4 separate regions of the Homo sapiens genome follow, and regions 1, 3 and 4 are each linked to region 2. The links come from fine-mapping of genetic effects on gene expression. A gene starts in region 2. Each other region holds a variant in brackets. All regions are shown on one strand. Distances are from middle to middle. Region 1 overlaps RALB (RAS like proto-oncogene B). Region 2 holds the start of RALB (RAS like proto-oncogene B). Region 3 overlaps RALB (RAS like proto-oncogene B). Region 4 overlaps RALB (RAS like proto-oncogene B).

The links. PIP is the estimated chance that this variant, and not a neighbour inherited with it, causes the effect.
Region 1: its variant is the best candidate, but not a certain one, in a credible set for the expression of RALB in fibroblasts (GTEx, PIP 0.73).
Region 3: its variant is the best candidate, but not a certain one, in a credible set for the expression of RALB in whole blood (INTERVAL, PIP 0.68).
Region 4: its variant is the best candidate, but not a certain one, in a credible set for the expression of RALB in amygdala (GTEx, PIP 0.76).

What each region holds. Positions count from the first base shown.
Region 1 is chr2:120,276,280-120,278,962 of GRCh38, reverse strand. It overlaps RALB (RAS like proto-oncogene B), which reads right to left. Exons shown (of 5, transcript NM_002881.3): 2 at 185-345. The coding sequence starts at 298. Among named protein-coding and RNA genes, the nearest start is that of RALB, 25 kb to the right of the region's middle. The variant ATG/G (reference allele first, on the strand shown) is at 1,543.
Region 2 is chr2:120,251,670-120,254,352 of GRCh38, reverse strand. It overlaps RALB (RAS like proto-oncogene B), which reads right to left and starts at 1,501. Exons shown (of 5, transcript NM_002881.3): 1 at 1,373-1,501. RefSeq lists an enhancer at 449-718 and a silencer at 1,219-1,808.
Region 3 is chr2:120,290,068-120,292,750 of GRCh38, reverse strand. All of the region lies in intron 4 of RALB (RAS like proto-oncogene B), which reads right to left. Among named protein-coding and RNA genes, the nearest start is that of RALB, 39 kb to the right of the region's middle. RefSeq lists an enhancer at 1,545-2,240. The variant G/A (reference allele first, on the strand shown) is at 1,449.
Region 4 is chr2:120,283,657-120,286,339 of GRCh38, reverse strand. It overlaps RALB (RAS like proto-oncogene B), which reads right to left. Exons shown (of 5, transcript NM_002881.3): 3 at 258-466. Among named protein-coding and RNA genes, the nearest start is that of RALB, 32 kb to the right of the region's middle. RefSeq lists an enhancer at 2,194-2,683. The variant GT/T (reference allele first, on the strand shown) is at 1,581.

The sequences.
Region 1 (2,683 bases), 25 kb before region 2:
CTAGAATCAGCAATCCAGATCTTATGCTGATTAGACCTTCCTAGGAAGCTATTCAGAAGCCACCTCAACACAGACTTGCTCCGTGAACCCCTGTGTACGGGAGGACCGGCACAGAAACAGCGGGAGCAGGGACACTGCTACGGCCAATGCCAAAGGAAGGTGGTCTGTGCCTAGCAGGGCTTACCTCGTCATACATGAACTGAAGCGTCAGGGCTGACTTGCCAACGCCTCCGCTGCCAACCATGATCACCTTGTGGAGGGCCAAGGAGCTCTGGCCCTTACTCTTGTTGGCAGCCATCTCGCTGGTCTTCTGAGGCTGTGACACACAGATGACCCACTGAAGAGCTGCTGATGACAAAGACAAAGACTTAGAGGCGATTTGCTTTCAACCTAGCTAAAACCAAATGTCATTCACATCCTCCATTAAAGCCTAACTAACCCAGACATTCCAACAGGAAAGTAATCCTTTCAGGCTCAGGGCAGACATGCGAGCCCTCCAACAACTCTGGAAGTCACTTACCCCAGCACAGCTGGGGCGAAGCCAAGGCTAGAGGGGAGAAACAGGAGCGCACACCCCACGCCCGCCTCACTGGGCAGGGTGGAGAGGACACCCAGTCACCAAAAATCATCAGACCCTCAGCAGGGCCTCACTGAGGCAGAGACCAAACCGCTCGTAGCTCCAGTTTCCTACCTCTCTGCTCGGTTCTCGGCTGCCGCGGAGAACAGCTTGGGACCTCAATCCCCAGCTCTTTAGCTTTACTCCTCGCTTTGCCCTCTTACCCTCTACCCCACAACACGCACACACTCACAACACGCTCACACACGCTCTCACATTCACACTCACAAACGGTCACTAACACACTCACACATGCCCACATTCACACACATGCTCACACTCACACACGCTCACATTCACACACACTCACGCTCTCACATTCACATTCACACATGCTCACACACTCGCACACACATTCACACATGCTCTTATTCACACACATTCACTCACATTCACACATTCACACTCGCTCACACACGCTCACATTAACTCACATTCACACACACGCTCACACTCATTTTCACACTCATGTTCTCACATTCACACATGCTCATGTTCTCACATTCAAACACACATATTCACACACTTGCTCTCACACGCTCTCACACACTATCACAGGCTCACACATGCTAGCACACGCTGTCATACATGCTCACATTCACACACAAGCTCACACACTATCACACACGCACTATCACACACACCCACATACACACTTTCACTCATAACACGTTCACAACGCTCTCACAACACTTTCAAATTTGTGCTCATGTACACTCACAAGCTCACATGCTCTCACAACACACACTCCATACACTATCACACACTTGTCCTCTCATAGGTGCACTCACGCTTTCACACACACACACAACTACACACTCACATACGCTCTAACGTTCACATGCTCATACCACACATACATGTTCATGCTCACACCACATACATGCTCTAACACATGCTCATATCACAGGCTCAGAGGCTCTAAC[ATG/G]CACATGCGTGTTCACATGCTCTCACACATACATGTTCACGCCACCACACACATGCTCTCACACACATGTTCACATGCTCACACCACACACAATCTCACATGCTGTAACACGTTCACAGAACACACACGCTCTCGCACATGCTCCCATGCACTCTTATGCTCTCATACACTTTCTCACACACACATATGCTCTCACACTCTTACACAGCCCCACACATCCCTCTGGTTGATTAAAGAAGTGAGTTCAAGAACAAATACCCCTTCATGACATGAGAGTTAAAAGGAGAAATCTCAAAATCAATTTGCCCTAATCAGAAGGAAGATAAAATGAGTAGAGCAACTCCAGTATTATGGGACAACAAAGCATCCCAAGTAAGTATATTTAACAGGGACCTGGAATCTACCGTAACCCAAGTGCCAATCTTTATTTTAACCAATTTGTATGGAAAAATCTATTTCACATATACCAAAACACAAGAATAAAGGGCAGGGCTTGGGCATCTGGCAGGCATGAGTGTGGTTCTGCCATTTGTGAGCTGCGTGACCCTAGAACTAGTTCAATGTCTCCAAGCCAGTTTTCTTATGTGCATAAAACCAACCACCACCTACCTTGCAGGAATGTTCTGAGGACTAAATAGGATATACATGGAAAACACCAAGGCACAGACCCAGCACCCAGTAGGAATGAACCAATGTTGTTTTCCATCCCATCTAATTGTAAGAGTGATACAGGAGGTAGAAAGAGACCATTTAGGCAGATAGTGAGGGCAAAGAGTCCTCGGCAGAACTTCCTCCTTTTTTTTTTTTCTTTTTTTTGAGACAGAGTCTCACTGTGTCACCCAGGCTGGAGTGCAATGGAACGATCTCGGCTCACTGCAACCTCTGCCTCCTGGATTCAAGTGATTCTCCTGCCTCAGCCTCCTGAGTAGCTGGGAATACAGGCACGCACCACCCTGCCTAGTTAATTTTTGTATTTTTAGTAGAGATGGGGTTTCACCATGTTGGCCAGGCTGGTCTCAAACTCCTGATCTCAAGTGATCCACCCCCTGCTCAGCCTCCCAAAATGCTGGGACTACAGGTGTGAGCCACTGCACCTGGCCAGAACTTCCCTTCTAACAAAACACAGCCCAAGAAATCAA
Region 2 (2,683 bases):
CAGAATAAAGCAGACCGGCTGACAACTAAAGCCACGCACAAAGGATATGTCTCCCTGGCCTTCTTCTCCCCCGCTCCTATTTCGTTTAATCCTAACAATTAGGATAACTATCATCACCCTTCTACAGTTGCTGACTCTGGAGCTCAGAGGGGGAAAGATCGTGCTCCACATCACAACACCGGTAAACTCTCAGAACCTGCATCAAACCCAGGTCTTCAAACTCACCCCTCCTGTTTTTCCCAATATGCAGTGCTACCTTTCATGGTCGGCCCATTTCTGGGAACTTCGATACTGTGCTTCTATTGCTCCAGGTTTAAGGAGCATTCTGAGCCTTGACCGGTTCTGAGCTTTGACATCCAACAATCTTATGGCTCTGCTTGGAACATCAGTCATTGACACCTCTAAAAGATTCACTATCCCCTCTGATACTCCATGCCCACCATCCATCCCCAAAACTTCAGAAGAAATGAGGTTAGGAAACCAGGACAGAGCAGAAAGTGCACTGTTCTACAAGGGCTGAAGATGAGTCACAGGTAACCCAGATGAGCAATCAGCCAAGTCTCTTCCACGGCCAATTCATTCAGTCCGCCAGGCACAAGCACTTCTCTCCCGAAGACTCACCTGATAAGAACACCAAAGTTCCAACGTTTCTCGTTGGAAATGAGCACAGAGAGGACACTGCTCACACAAGCAGTGTGGACGCAGCAAGCTCCGCGCCCCGCAACCCTGCACCGAGCACGGTTAACCTCACACTCCCACAGGCGGCAAGAACCGGGACGGCGATGCCCAGTCCAGGCGCTTCCCCTTAGAAGCCCCTTCGCCGCTGGCCCCTATCAGAAAGGAAAGGGGAGGAGGCTGGGGGAGAAACAACTTTATGCTCATTTGCAAGACAGGACCAAAACAAAACCAGCAAACCGAAGCCCTTTAGGAACACCGCCCAGTTCACGGCGCGTGCAAGTTCCGAGGGCAGTTAAGTTTTTGCAACACTTCCCAGCCCTGACCCTGCCCAAGCCGCGGCCGGAGGACTGAGGAAGTGGACGGTCCCGAGCGGGAGGCCCGCGGCAGGAAGTGGAAGCAGAGCCATCTGCGGGATAGGGAAGGAACCGCGGCTACAAGGGAGAGGCGGAGGCCGCCCCCACTTCCTCAGCCCCAGGCAGCCCAGGAAGCCGAGACTCCCCCAGGGAGTCCTCCCGGAGCGGAGCGGGGCCGCTGCCGGGGCGTCGCCCTCCGCCGGCCTCGGGGCGCGACATGTCCTGCCGCCGCCCGGCCACAGCCCGGCACGGAGGGAGCAAGAGGCTGCGGGCGTGCGGCGTACCCCACTCCCCAGCCCGCGCCCCACCCCGCCCGGGGCCCGCGGGCGCCGCGCCCTTACCAGGGACCAGTCCCGCCGCCTCCGCCGTCCGCACCCGGCCCGCAGCTCTTAAACGCGCCCCGCCCCCTCCCGGGGCCGGACCCCAGCCGTCCTCCACCGATTTGTCATTGAGCTGCCGGGCTCGCTTTCCCACCCCCCGAGCGCGCCTCCGGCGTCGCCTAGGCAACCCCTCCTCTCGAGAGCGCGCCCTCGCTTCCGTTCTTGCCCTCTCCTCGGAAGCCACGCCCGTCGGGGGGCTGTCAGCCAATCCGAGGCTGATTTTCCAAGCAGCGGGCGGCCGGGGAGGAGGTTTCACCAATGAGAAGCTGCCCCAGGCACGGGGGGGCGGGCCCAGCGCGCCTGCCCCGTCCCCCTCTGTTTCTCTCTCTGCCCCTCGGACACGCAGCTGGTAACCCTGCGGCAGTGGAGGAGCTGCCCGCCGGTATTGAGGGCGGGTGCGGGTGCACAAGGTGGGGCGCCAGTTGTGGGATTCAGGCCAGGGCTAGGACGAAGTAATGGAAAGCAAAAGCGAAGGACAGACCTGATCATACAGAAACAGAAGAAAATTACGAGGTGGCGAAGAGTGCTGGAGCGCGGCGATGGGGATGCCGCCCGGGGGTCTTGGGGCGGGACTCCACCTGCCGCCACCACTCGCTTCGCTGATGACATCCCATTAGCAGTAATGGAGTTAGTGAGTGCATGGCGGAGACTGGACCCAGGCCGCCTACAAGGGCCAGAATCCCACCCCAGCCATAGCCTCGAGGCAGGAAGTGCAGTGGGCAAGCTCCCTGCCAAAGCCCAGGAACGTGTGATTTTGTATCCAGTACAGCTTCATCTCGGTGGATTTTCCTTCCTAACCACCTCCTCCTCCACAGGTTTTGTGACCGTGCTGACCCCTACGCAGACCTCATGAGAGTCACAAGCCATCGCAACTGACAGTTTAAACGTCTGCCTCTTATCTCTAAGGGAGGGAACTATCTCTTATGCAATGTGATATCCATGGCTGCTAGCACAGTGTAATTAATTCTTTCATTGTTGATCATTGTAAGTTAGGATGCATGTGTATACTATATTGGAGGCTTTGGGCCATGATTAGATTGCTATGTATCTACCAGATCCAGTCCCTCCATCAGCATCTATATCAAAAAGCACAGAAGCTTTACCTTAGTCTTAAGTGACCAACTTAACAAAAAAGTGCAATCAGAAGAATATCCTAGTGTTAGCCTACTAAGTATTCTGTTTTTACCATTCTCATTCACATTTAAAACTTTTATTGAGTGCTAATCGTATGACAGACACTTTGCTAGGTACAGTAAGGAGATGGGGTAGGAG
Region 3 (2,683 bases), 38 kb before region 2:
TGAACTCCTGAGCTCAAGCAATGCCCACCTCAGCCTTCCAAGTGCTCGGATTACAGGCGTCAGCCACTGCACCCGGCCTAACAGCTGCTTTCAAAATGATAAAATCTTACAATAAGTGTGATGAAGGGTAAGACATATTTTTGCATATAACAGATCTATACATTTATAAAATTTACAAATATTGAGAGTAATAACAGCAAGCAGACTTTCTAGCATTTCCAACCACCAGGGAAGGGAAGAATGCCATAATGAGTCCCTGCTCCCAGGTGCTCTTGACACCCCTGCATCTGATTTAATCCTTACAAGGACCCCATGGAGGTTGGAACATCATTATGCATGACAGCTTTCCCAGCTAACTCCACAACAGCCACCCTGGGGAGGCAGTAGGATGGGAGAAGGAGGGCGTAAAGCATCAACAACTAAAGCTCCTGCACTAGGCGACTGAGAAGATGGAGGATGAGAGATGTCCTTCTGGCCACCCTATCCCTCCCCACACACACTCCCCCACCCTCAATCTCAGGACAACCACTCCTCCGACCCTTGTGATGTCAGCTGAGAGGAACTTTATCAAGAACTGATGAGACTTGTCCTTTGAAGGTCAGTGTGTTACTTAGATATGGATTATCCTTTTGTCACAGTAGTTTGGGTTTTGCCCTCTGCTACCAGCCATCATGCCAGAGGACTGATTATACCCAAGCAGACAAAATATGAATCCTACGAAGAGACATTTGAGATTTCTCATAGAGAATGACAGAGACTGCAAGTGTGGGACTGAGCACAGCCCTTATCTTCAGACATTCACACAAAACCACAAGCTCCTTCATGGCCACACCTTCTTCTTGGTGAAAAGCAAGATCAAGCCTCTGGAGTGTGGGGCTCCACATGCATTTACCACTAGCTCCAGGCACAGAAAAGCACCCCCAACCCCAGCCCCCAGCTAGATCAGGCCAACCCAAACATCCCTTCTTGCCAGCCTCTCAGGAAAGCACTGCCCAAGACAGCAACAGTGAACAGTTTCAAATGCTACAGGTTTGTCTTTTTGTCCTAACAGCAAAAGACAAGAGGAGGGGAATGGAGTGCATCCAACTTAAAATGATGACAAAGTTGTTCATGGGCTGATCTTATCACACCTTTCATAGAAATTCTTTACAAGTGAATACCATGCTGCCAGTCATAAGTCTCTGCTGGTTCCTGTTTGGCAGGTCAAGCTGGTCCAGCAGACAAGGGGAGATGACAACACAGACCCCCCACGCGACAACCCATCCAGGAAATACACATCCACAGTTCCAAGCTGAGAGAGTCTCCCTGATTTTTTTAAAATGAGCCATATTTCTGGATTTCCTGTGTGGTTTCCACAGCTGGAAAATAATTTAATAAAAATATTTTAAGTAGCACAATAATATAAGAGTGTAAGAGTTGAGAGATGACAATATAAAGAAAAGCTGACG[G/A]CGGAACACGCGCTTCCCATTGCAGATTACAACTAAACGGACTTAGGTTGTACAATATATGTATCCTATATGTATATCTATCCTATATGTATATGTCTCCTAAGATACATGTTTTTATGTACGATACATACAAATAGATGTATCTTGCCGAAGTGCGTCTAAAGCAAACCCCTTCTAATACCAACATTCTAAATACCAATGTTCTTCTAGCATCACTTCAAGTGAAAATAAAGCTTGGATAAAAATCTCTCCCTTGTCAGGTAATGAAAGCAAAGGGGAATGTTTCTGCACAAGAAAGAGAAACAGAAGACAGGATATAGGGGATTCAGATGCTGATGCTGCAGAACAAAAAGCAGACGTGTCCACTGTGTGGCTGCCAAAGTGCTATGTGCTTAGATTCTACAAGCACATGGATATGCAGTGAGAGCTAGTGAATGAGGTCAAGGCAGAAAGCCTCATCTTTAAGGCACAGCGTTAAAATTTTAGCTGTGTGGCAACCACCTTGAACTTTAATTTTAAAAAGAAAAAAGGCCTAACAATAGCAATCCCTGATAGGTGGATTTTCAAATTGTCAGCATTCATCATTGTCACTCAAGGTCACCCTTTTATTAGCTTCAGAGATTTGAATGAGAAAGTATGCTGGGATGGGATAAGAGATAAAAAAAAAAAAGAGATCCCAGAGATTTGAGTTCTGAGAGCAAATACTATTTAGAGACTACACTACAAAGATGGAACACTGTGGCTCTGTCAGTGAACAGTAAGGTGAAAAGAACAAATCTGACCAATAACTCAATGAGAGCAAAATCAAGAAGCTCCACGTATCTTTCAAGGGCACCTCCAGGGGAACCTCCTAGAAGCAGCCAGGCCCGCCCACCCTGCTCCTGAAGAGCAAGGCTGTGGAAGGTGAGAGCACACACAGAAGCTAATGACGTCCATCCCTCCAGCCCAGCCTTCACAAACCAATGGCCTCGTCCCACCATCCTTCCCAGGACCACACCAACAGTAAGCATAGTCCGCCGGGTGTGGTGGCTCACACCTGTAATCCCAGCACTTTGGGAGGCTGAGGCAGGCAGATCACTTGAGCCCAGGAATTTGAGACCACCCTGGGCAACATGGTGAAACCCCATCTCCACAAAAAACAGCCAGTGTGGTGGTGCACACCTGTAGTCCCAGCTACTTGGGAGGCTGAGGTAGGAGGATTGCTTGAGCCCAGGAGGCAGAGGTTGCAGTGAACT
Region 4 (2,683 bases), 32 kb before region 2:
TTCGGGGACAGTAAGACTCTTAAAATTATTTTATTCAGAAATCACAGATCAGGAAAGCCCAAAGAGATTATAATCATCATAGTCTATAATGTGCCAAGATTCAGAAAGCCCCAGAAGATTCTTTAGACAGAATTATTCCTGAGAACAAGCTCAGCCCTCTCCTAGTATGCTCAGCCCCAAATTCTTCATAGGCCTAAGACATATGAGAAAAGGCAAAAAGCTTCCTGGGGGCTTCTGCTATTTCATTTCAGACATACCTGAATTCGGCAGTTGCTGTAAAGGATTCATGTTCTGTGATTGAGAACACAAGAAGAAACCCTTCCCCACTCCGAAAGTAGTTATCTCGAATGGCTGCGTAGTCCTCTTGCCCAGCGGTGTCCAGAATATCTATCTGAACTTCTTCCCCATCAAGAACCACTTTCTTTCTATAACTGTCAGCTTTGGTAGGTTCATAGTCTTCTACAAACTGAGGAAATAAACATTATCGGTAATTAACAAAGTCTTAAGGGGAACAAAATCTGCCAAAAAACAAAATTCCACATATGGGCACTTCACACTATGAACAGGACACTACAGAAGCAACATTTTACGTAACACTTCTGTTCTTTATAGCTCTGTTTTGCCATTTTTTGTTTTTAAACAATACAGGCAGATATCCCAATTTACAGATGAGGAAACCAGGCACAGAGCAGAACACTTGGCAATATTATTGTCAGTATAAAATTTTAATGCAAACACCTGCAAGGGTGAGAAACTGGAATTCTTTTTTAATTATACTTTAAGTTTTAGGGTACATATGCACAATGTGCAGGTTTGTTACACATGTATACACGTGTCATGTTGGTGTGCTGCACCCATTAACTCGTCATTTAACATTAGGTATATCAAAAAACTGGAGTTCTTATTCATAACGGAAGTATAAAATTCATCTGAAAAGTAATTTGGCAAGATGTATGATATGGTCTGGTTCTGCATCCCCACCCAAATCTCATCATTTAGGTTGTAATCCGAATTATCATCCCAATGTGTTGGGGAAGTGACCTTATGGGAGACAATGAGATCATGGGGGCGGTACCCCTATGCTGTTCTTGTGATAGTGAGTTCGTTCTCACAGGACCTGATGGTTTCATAAGGGGCTTTTCCCCACTTCGCTCTGCACTTCTTCCTGGCGCCTTGTGAAGGACATGTTTGCTCCCCCTTCTGCCATGATTGTAAGTTTCCTGAGGCCTCCCCAGCCCTGTGGAAGAAAAGAGGCTATACACCTCTTTTCTTTATAAACTACCCAGTCTTGGGTATTTCTTCACAGCATCAAGAGAATGAACTAACACAGTGTACCAAGAGGCTTTCAGTGGTGTGGGTTTTTGAGAAAGGAATGAAGTAGTACCAACGCACGCTGCAACATGGAACAACTTTCAAAACATGATGCTGAGTGAAAGAAGTTAGACATAAAGGCCACATATTGTATGATTCCATCTATATGAAATGTCCAGAATAGGCAAATCCATAGAAGCAGAAAGCAGTTGCCAGAGGCCAGGGGTGGGACGGGGAAGCAATAACGGGGAATGACTACTAATACGTAG[GT/T]TGGTTTTTTTTGGAGTGATGAAAGTGATCTAAAATTAGATAATGGTGATGGTTGCACATCTGTATGAATATACAAAAAAAACCTATTAAATTGTACACTTTAGGCCGGGGCAGGCAGATCACCTGAGGTCAGGAGTTCGAGACCAGCCTGGCTAACATGGTGAAAACCCATCTCTACTAAAAATACAAAAGATTAGCCAGGTATGGTGGTGCACACCTGTAATCCCAGCTACTCAGGAGGCTGAGGCAGGAGAATCACTTGAACCTGGGAAGTGGCGCTTGCAGTGAACCAAGATCGTGCCATTGCACTCCAGCCTAGGCAACAAGAGAAAAACTACATCTCAAAAAAAAAAAATTGTACACTTTAAAAAGAGCGAATTTCATATGTGCATTACATCTTAATAAGGCTGTGATTTAAAATTTTTTTAACTTAAAAATGGAATTGAAAATGTCCAAGTGAATTAAAGGTTATTTGAGGAAGACTGTTAAAAAGAGCCTTGTATTGTCAGTTAACAGCTACTCAAAAATAAAAATATTAAGACATGTTTAGTATTAGGTTCTCTTCAACGTGTACTAATAAATTATCTCCAAATAGAGATGTGAAAACTTGCCTGTGCTTTCAAGTGTCCTTCTTTTAACTCCTTTCCAAAAAGAAAAATACACGCCAAAAAAATCCAACACACGACTGTCCCCTGAAAATCTCTGAATTCTACCATAAATTATCTCAACTGTATATTTCTGAGCTTCCAAGGATAAAGCCAGCCAGAGTTCCACTGGCTCCTTTGACACAGAAGTCAGAATGTCCTGCTGTACCTACATACCTCTGTACTCAATGAAAAGTATGCTGATTACCCCAACATTCCATTACAACCCTGATGTTTATTTACATTGCTCAGCTGGAAACAGAAAATCACAAAGTCTTTGTATCCATTAGCGTGAACCATACGTATCCCCTACTGGCCTTGCAGAGCTCTGCATGGCTCAGTTTCAGATGCCCAAGAGTCTAAGACAAACTTCACGTGGACCCTTTCTTTCTAAGCTGACTTTCCTCTAAGCTGCCAGAGACTGAAAGTCTGAAACGGTTGCTGCCAAAGCCTCTCCA